Linked DNA regions of Homo sapiens: region 2 is linked to region 1. The links come from fine-mapping of genetic effects on gene expression. A gene starts in region 1. The other region holds a variant in brackets. All regions are shown on one strand. Distances are between the middles of the regions.

Region 1 (4,404 bases):
TTAAAAGCTGCAGGTAATTTTTAAGGTTTGATGGAATTATAATGGAAGCCTTGTATAAGTTAAATGAAATTGGTAAAGGAGAGCTTACTTTGTCTATAATGCATTCAGGATTAAAAATTAGATTTCAAAATGAAATGTCTGATTTGTAAAATATTTAATGTTATATCAGACTTACATAAAATTTTCTGTGAGAACTCAAATGCATTTGATTTTTAATGAATGTTCTGAATGAAATATGAATTTTTGTCTTTCAGTCTCTGTAGTTTATCTCAATATATTAATAAAAAGGTCTGTTCTCACTGTAAAATGTTTGTTTTTATCATGTTTTATACTCAATATGGCCACTCTTTCATTCATTCAACTATTCAACAAGTATGTCAATGCTTGCTATATCCCAGGCAGTGAGCTGGGTGCTGGGAATTAATCACTGAATAAGAAAGACAAAAACCTTAAAGAGTTTACATCTAGCAAAGAAAATAAATATCAAGTAAATAATTATAATTATGATAAATTCTACAAAGAAAATTACAGGGTACAATGAAAGCATTTATCTAGAAGACCTAAACTATTCAGTGAGGGTCAGGGAAGGCTTCTCTGAGAGTGAGTTTAAGCCAAAATGCAAAAGATGAGATTAGTAGGATTAAGGTATGCTAGAGAAATATCTCAGGCAGAACGTGCTAAGTTGGTAAAGTGATAAAAATCTTTATGGAAGTGAAAACAAACTTGTATGATCATAGCATAAGGAATCCAGGGTAGGTGAGAGAATTAAGATAGGGGCCAGATCCCCATAAGAATGATATATAAACCATGATGCTGATATTGAACTTTATCCTAAGTCAATAAACTTGATTTTCAAGGAAGGAGTTAAATGATGTGATTTGGGTCTTTAGAACATCATTTTTGTTGCTGTGTGGAGACTGGAGGGCAAAAGAGAATGTAAGAAGAATAGGAGGTTGTTGTCAAAAGAGAGATGATCATGGCTTGGAGTAGGGTAGGAATATAGATAGGTGAATAGTTTTCAAAGATAGGAGGTAGAATCAACAGAACTCTGATTAGATTTGTGACATATGGAAGCAGCAATTGAAAACCAGGCTAAAGTTTTCTGAAAATTTGGCTATGAAAGGGAGTAGAGGAAAAACAGTGTGGTAGCTGAAAGAGGATGCGATTTCTAAAGAAGCTTTTCTTTTGAGGGTCTCGCTCTGTCACACAAGCTGGAGTTCAGTGGGGCGATCACCACTCGATGCAGCCTCAAACCCTGGGCTCAAGGGATCCTCCTGCCTCAGCCTCCCGAGTACCTGGTGCACGCCACGTTCGGATAATTCTTAATTATTATTATTATTTGTAGAGATGGGGTCCTATCTTGCCAGGCTGCTGTGGAACTCCTGGGCTCAAAGGATCGTCCCGCCTCGGACTCCCAAAGTGCTGCGACTACAGGCGTCAGCCACCGCACCCGGAAAGCCTTTTATTTTTTTCAATTATTATTTATTACATGAGACCTTACTAATTTTTAAAAATTCTGATGTAAAAGGGAACATAGAAGGTGCCCGTAATCAGTGTCTGCATGTTAAAAGTAGACGCTTGAAGTGCTCCAGAAAACCCATGGCTCCTCCCCATTCAATCTAGGTAAGGCCTTCAGTAAAGAGCACCCATGGGGAAGTCACAAGAGCCTAGGAAACAGGTCAGAAACCTGTGGACCTGGTACTTCCAATCACAGGCAATCTGGTGCTTGCTCTTCAGCTCATCACACCATCCCCTCAAATTTCTTCATCTACAAGAAAAGGTTTTAAGATAACAGACCCTGCAAAACTAATGACATTTATACACCCTCTCTGCACAAGAATGTCTTGTAACACATAACCTTGCTTGCATTTTCTGGGTTCCTTAGGGTCCAGCGATCTCGTACAAATCTACCCCACAGCTGACTTCCTTCGGCCCGTGACACAAGGCGCAGGCGCAAGACGCGGCCCGCGGTGGGCGGGGGAGGGGCGGGGCGCGTGCGGGGCGGGGGGGAGGGGAGGGGCGCGGCCGCCGGACGCGCCCTCGCAGCTTCCGCCGGGCCCCTCCGGAAATCCCGTATCGTAGGGCGACGGCGGCTTAGAAAGTGCTTCCTGGAGCGCAGACGAGGTCATGAATCATGTGACGGTGGCTTGAGGAGGAACCTGTCTTTAAAGCTGTCCCTGAAGTGACAGCGGAGAGAACCAGGCAGCCCAGAAACCCCAGGTAACTGGCGCTACTTTGCCTGGTTTTGAGGCCTAGTCCCGCAGGTGGCGCGGGTGGTGAGATTAAACAGAAGGAGAGGACCCTCTCTTCTTTTCTTTGGGCCTAGCTCTTTGGGGTGGAGGGGCAGGGATGGGGTGGGCTGAGGTAAGGTGTGCCAGCTGAGTACCTGTGGGGGTGCTGGGGCACTCCGACTCCCACTGGGCTCGCTGGGCCAAGCCCTAGAACCGCGGGGGTTTTACCTGGTTCTGACCAGGGCTGATCTCGCGTATTAAGTTGTGGGTGGGGAGGACGAGGAAGCCAAAGAGGGAAGAGTCACCGGGAGTTTCTCTTCCAGGCGTGGAGATTGATCCTGCGAGAGAAGGGGGTTCATCATGGCGGATGTGAGTGACACCCCTACATAAGAGGAAGGGGAGAGTGGGGAATTTTGAGGGGCATACTGAGCGGGGAGAGGTAGAACTTCCCAAACAGAAATTTGTTTTGATCCTCCCAGCCCCACCCATCCCAGTTAATTATTTTCTCTGATATCTGAAGTGGGAGACTAATATGAATGAATTTGCAGGATCCTGAGTTTCTGCCTCGAATGGGGGTGTAGGACACTAAGGTGCTTGAGACTGAGAAAATTAGGTTCTCCCTACTCCCCAGTCCAGCTGGGGCATAAGAGAGGCTCTGTATATTTACCATTTGAAATTCTGAATGATGGTTTGCTGCTTTTCCTGTCAGAATTTGGTCAGTAGGACATGTACCCACAATACTTTTTTCCAGTAAGTGATAACAATATCTCATTTGGTTTATTGTAGCAATTTACGATGATTTCTAACCCATGCCTCTTTAGAAACATGGTAACGTGTGTGTGTGTGTGTGTAGGAGGATAAAATGATCAGTCGGGTTTGGAGAATAGTAAGTGCTGGATGCTCAAAACAAGAGATACCTGATTAATCCATGTGAGGTCAAAATTGATACCTAAATTGTCAGTGAAATTCCTGGGATAAGAGAGTGTAATGAGACAAAATAAGATAGTCTTCTGGCCAATGCGGTTGCTTAGTCTGTAATCTCAGCACTTTGGGAGGCCGAGATGGAAGGATCACTTGAGGCCGGGAGTTCAAGATCAGCCTGGGCAACATAGCAAGACCCCGTTCTACAAAAAGAAATTTAAAAATCAGCCAGGCGCATTGATACCTCTGTAGTCACAGCTATGCTGGAAGTGAGGCGAGACGATTGCTTGAGCCCAGAAGTTGGAAGTTGCAGTGAGCCCCAGCTTAGAAAAATAAAATAGTCTTCTACTTCTTTAGTCTTAACTGTGTTTCGTGTTAAACACTTGACACACATTGTCATTTATTTTATATTCTGTAACACTGGGCTGGGCGCGGTGGCTCACGTCTGTAATCCCAGCACTTTGGGAGGCCAAGGCGGGTGGATCACCTGAGGTCAGGAGTTCGAGACCAGCCTGGCCAACATGGTAAAACGTTGTCTTTTCTAAAAATACAAAAAATTAGCTGGGCATGGTGGCAGGTGCTTGTAATCCCAGCTACTCGGGAGGTTGAGGCAGGAGAATCGTTTGAACCTGGGAGGCAGAGGTCGCAGTGAGCCGAGATCGCGCCATTGCACTCCAGCCTGGACAACAAGAGCGAAACTCCGTCTCAAAAAAAAAAAAAAATGTTGCCTCACATAGTCATATAGAATTTATTTTAGGTCCTTAAACAAAATATTTTAAAAATTACGTTATAATAATATGCCTTACACTGTTTCATTATTTGTTGAGTAGGTGAGTTCAACAAATAATGAAACAATGGAAGGCATATTTTTATAATGTGATAGTCACGTGAGACAACAGTCTTACAGAGGTCATATCACCTTACCCAAGACCATTAAGATGATGGTGGAAAGTCTATCTTTGAACATGGAAAGGTGTTTATAACGTCTTCTCAAGTGAACACAATAGCAACAGGATGTAAAACACTAGTATGAAAATTATGATGTAATTTTATGGCTAAAATGTGTTTCCCATTTCTAGGTATGCTAATCCATGCATCTTCTCAATAAACTTTTAACAACACTTTTATGATGTAGGTTCTATATTAGCCCTATTCAACAAATAATGAAATAAGCTTAGCGAAAAAAGGTTGGTTAACTTACTCCAAGTTGCGTGACTAGTAAACATCCAAATCAGACAGAGAAAGATAAAAC
Region 2 (4,404 bases), 62 kb after region 1:
GAAAATCAGGAGATAGATTTGCCTACAGGGAGAACAGCGCATGAACATGACAGTCACTTCCAAGCCACAGGAAGAGGCCTGGAACAGATTCTCCCTCACGGCCCTCGGAAGGAACCAATCCTGTTGACACCTTGATTTCCGACTTTGAGCCTTCAGAACTGTGAGGCAATCGATTTCTTATAGTCAGCTGCCCAGGCTGTGGTTCTTTGTTATAGCAGCCCTAGCAAACTAATACAGTGTTGCTTTGTAATCAGAATTGGTTTTTAAAGTCCAAGTCAAAATACCATAAGAATAGGCTTTGACCAATTTCCTTCTTTTTTTGGTCTCTCACACTCTTTTTCAAGTGTGGTACCTTTTCACGGCGAAACCTCTGTGCTATAATACTAAAGGCTATTGTCATGAGTGAAACGAAGCTGGATGGAAGGAATTATAGTATGAAGTAAATGCCACCAAGTACTGTTTCAGCCTGACAAGTATCTGAAGAGCTAGGGAATGCTCAAGGAGATTCAAAATGATATTTGTGTTTTAGAAAAGGTAATATATATCTATGGTAAAAAAAAAAAAATTCAAATTGTCCAAAAGGAGACATAGCAAAACATGTTTTCTTCACCCTGGGCCCTCAGGCTCCCTGTTCCTTTCCTAGAGGACACCTTGGTAACCATTTTCCTGTGCTTCCTCTTAAGAGATAGTCTACACACTTAGAGGCATTGGATGTGTACCTCCACTCCTGATTCTACAAACATACGAGCATTATTTATTATTTTTATTTTCTAGGCATATTGCTCTGCACCATCTTTCTTTTCTCCAATAACAGGTCATTCACATTCTTTTAAACGATGTCATAGAGGCATGAAATGTGATGATTAGGATTGTGGCCCCGGGGGTTGCTTTGCCTGGGTCCCAATCCAGGTGGTACCTCTTACTAGCTGTATGGCCTTGGACATGTTACTTAACCAATCTGAGCTTTGGTTCCTCATGTTTAAAATAGTATGACTAATAGGCATACGGCATAGGCCAGTTGTGAGTCCTGCACACATTAACATGGATGAGATGTGCTCCATAAAGCCTGGCAACTAAAGCAGTGCTTAGTATGCGTTAATTGCTACCAGGAAGCCATTGAGATCCAAAAAGCCGTAACTTTCAATTTACCCTCTGTGGCATGACTTTCTTATTGCTCAAATAGAATTTTTGTTACTTTTTATTTAGATCAGATAACAGAAAGCTAGACAGCAGAGGCAGTTGCTGACTGCTAGGGACCACAGTTTAGGTCAGTGAAGATGAAAGAGAGACAGGCAATTATACAAATAATGTCAGTGTGATGAACTAAATGCTATTAAAGAGGTGTGTATAGTGTAAAAAAGCTTTGAGGAATAGCCCTATTCTGGCATTAAGGGATCTTGTTGTCATGAACCACACTGATATCCACTGAGACATCCCTGTGGCATAAACTTTTAGCCTGAGTAATAAAGAGTAAACCTAAGTGCACCTGTGGAAGGAAGTTTTTACATAGGTCTCCAAGATACCTATTTTCTAAATCTGCATTTCCTAATGCATGTTTCTTAGCATATTTTATCTTTGGGGCAGAGATGCTTTCATCCTATATTAGAAATATATTTGCTAGCTGAAAGCAATGGCATGAAACACATTTTATAAGAATAAACACAGAGCTATTTACCCAAAGCAGCTCCATTCATTGAACTGATTCCCAGACAAGTTCAAATCTGTTCACTACAAAATGCTTTCAAAGAACAATTGGAAGAATTATAAGTGAAACAATAATAAAGTTCAAGTTCAACTGAAGCCAAAATTCTAATTCTTTTTGATAGGTGAAATTTCCACAAGGTTATAAAAACTTAGATATATTTTGCCAATAATTAACTTTATAATAAACATTTCAGCATAAGTTTCAGTTCGAGCCAGCAGATTGTTTATTTAAAGCAATACTTCATTTGTGAAATTCCAAAACATTTAAAGGATTTGGACATTCCTTTGGATTCTTTTCAATGGAATTGGAAGTTTGTGTTTAAAGCATTTATAGAATTCTTCTTACATCTAATTATATAGCCTGATAACAGTTGTTTATGTAAAGCAATATTTGATTCGCAAAATTCCAAAACATTTAAAGGATTTGGACATTCCTTTGGATTCTTTTCAATAGAATTGGAAGTTTGCGTTTAAAACATTTATAGAATTCTTTTGACGTCTAATTATAGCCTGATAACAGTTTTTACTAATAATGTTTTAATGATAATTTAAAAAACAATAACTATATACCATAAACACATAAGAAATACTTGAGTATAATGCAAGAAGAATCACACTAAGCTGCAGTCTGGAAAATTCTTGGAGACTGCAATTCCTTGGTGGCAGCTTTGCCTGAGTCAATATTGCCTTTTCAGGAGTTTACAGACTCCAGGGCCTGGGCAAGCCCAGTATAGAGCTTTCCAGGCAGCCACCTACATTCCATGATGTCAGTGGTGCAATAAGGATCCTCATTCCCCAAATAGCTTTTCCACAAAAACCTAAACTTCCCCTTTTAATTGAGTTAAGCATTCCTTTCCTGGAACATTCTGATGAGCATTTCTT[T/C]CAGGGGAGTGAATGTATATCCTAATGACATTTGTATTCTTTGTAGAAATATGTCCACCTTTGATAAGGATGATTCAAGACTGTGTCCATAAAAGTTAAAAATAGAGTTAAGTTGGTAGTTTTCCCATAATCAACCTTTTCTGCCTTCAGTCATTGCTTCAAATCTGTGCAAGGCATTGTGCTAGGCAGGTCAAAGGGAACAAAAATGGAAAAGCCTCAGACTGGGTGACAAATAACCATTAATCTAGTCAGGAGAATAAGACAAGCATATTGCAAACTATATCCAAGAGAGAATAAAGTACCCAAGGGATGTTCTAAAAAGAAAGATCGAAATCAGGTTCCCTGAATGAGCCAACATCTGTATAGGCCTTGAAATATAACCTGTTTTTTTTTTTTTAAGGTTGTGTTACCTTTTATTCTGATTATAAAGCATATATAGTAAAAGTTAAAATATATACATGTAAAGAAGATAAAGTATGTGTTTTTCAGAAGAGGAAAGATGTGTTTCAAATAAATAATCTCACTATTAATCAGAGAAATGCAGATTACAATAATAATGTGATATTTTTCTTTATCCACCAGATCGGTTATAATGAAAGGATTGGATAGTATTAAGTATTGGAGAATTTGGGCAATGGCTATTACTGTCCATTGTTGATAAGGGTCTAAGTTGGAGGGGAATTTAGCACATAGGGTGTAACTGAACCTCCACATATGACCAGCGATTCCTCTTCTAGTTTCCACCTAGTGAAACACCCATACATGAGCAGAAGAAAATATGAACAAGGGTGTTCACTGCAGAATTGTTTGTAAGAGTAAGAAATCTAGAGCCATCCTAAATGTCCATCGACATGGAGATGATAAATAAAGTGGAGTGCTAAAAGGATGAGATTATGTAAAAAGTTAACCAAAAGTGTTTGAAAAGCTGTGAGCATATTTTTGGTTGCCAGATAATGAGGGCAGGGAGTCGGGGTGCTATTGTTATTTTGTGAGAGGGTGCCAGGGATGCTTAACATCCTACAAATGATACAGTCTTGAAGAACCAAGAATTGTCTTGTTCATGATGTCAATTACACCCCACCACTGAGAATCACTGAAGATAGGTGTGTATACACACACACATCAAAGTTGATAGATCCCAACATATATTGTAAAGTTAGAAGAACTAGTTGCAGGCACCAAATGTTACCACTTGGTTTTAACACGTTCCCCTATAAAATATCAACAACAAAAATATGCTTACATATTAAGATATATAAAAACATAAAATAAGAGTTTTAAAAATATACACCAAATTCATAAGTATGATTTTCTTTGTAGAAGGAACCAGAATTTGTTCAAAGGAGACTTTAGCTTGATCAGATTTTTCTAATTTAGCTTGTTCTAATGAAAAAAATAGATTTCTATATTAGTTAGCTACAAATTTAATTAGAAAAAAAGAAAATAGCTAATTTCTTACTTAATCCAACTTCCAGAGATAACCTTATTAATAATTTGCCATATTCTTTCATTTATTCAACTACTGCTTATTGAGTACTTGGACTGGCCTAGGCACTTAGGTGAAGATTGAGAGAGAGAGAGAGAAAGAGAAAGAGAGAGAGAGAGAAAGAGAGAGTTTGGCTTTTTCCTATTAAAAGTCTGGTGGGGTTTGGATCCGCAGTTGTTCAGGGAGATATAACATGGGAGGGAATAGCAGCAGCAAAGGCCTAGAAGTGAGAGAATGCAAGGCGTGTATGAGAATCAGAATATCATGTAGTCATGTGAGAATTCAAAGTGAGTGATGAAGGACAGCAGTTGGGAATGGTGAGAGATGAAGGT

Direction of the effects. Positions count from the first base shown, and alleles are read on the strand shown. Sizes are in standard deviations (SD) of each study's normalised expression.
For the expression in fibroblasts of the gene that starts at base 2,128 in region 1, allele C in region 2 goes with a lower level than allele T (small effect, 0.13 SD a copy in GTEx).

Evidence for each region.
Region 2: its variant is fine-mapped to the expression of LAMTOR3 in fibroblasts (GTEx, PIP 0.96).

Annotation. Positions count from the first base shown.
Region 1 is chr4:99,892,151-99,896,554 of GRCh38, reverse strand. LAMTOR3 (late endosomal/lysosomal adaptor, MAPK and MTOR activator 3) reads left to right here and starts at 2,128. Exons shown (of 7, transcript NM_021970.4): 1 at 2,128-2,220; 2 at 2,555-2,600. The coding sequence starts at 2,592. It overlaps DNAJB14 (DnaJ heat shock protein family (Hsp40) member B14), which reads left to right. Exons shown (of 8, transcript NM_001031723.4): 8 at 1-307. RefSeq lists a silencer at 1,940-2,029.
Region 2 is chr4:99,830,553-99,834,956 of GRCh38, reverse strand. All of the region lies in intron 1 of DAPP1 (dual adaptor of phosphotyrosine and 3-phosphoinositides 1), which reads right to left. Among named protein-coding and RNA genes, the nearest start is that of DAPP1, 16 kb to the right of the region's middle. The variant T/C (reference allele first, on the strand shown) is at 2,587.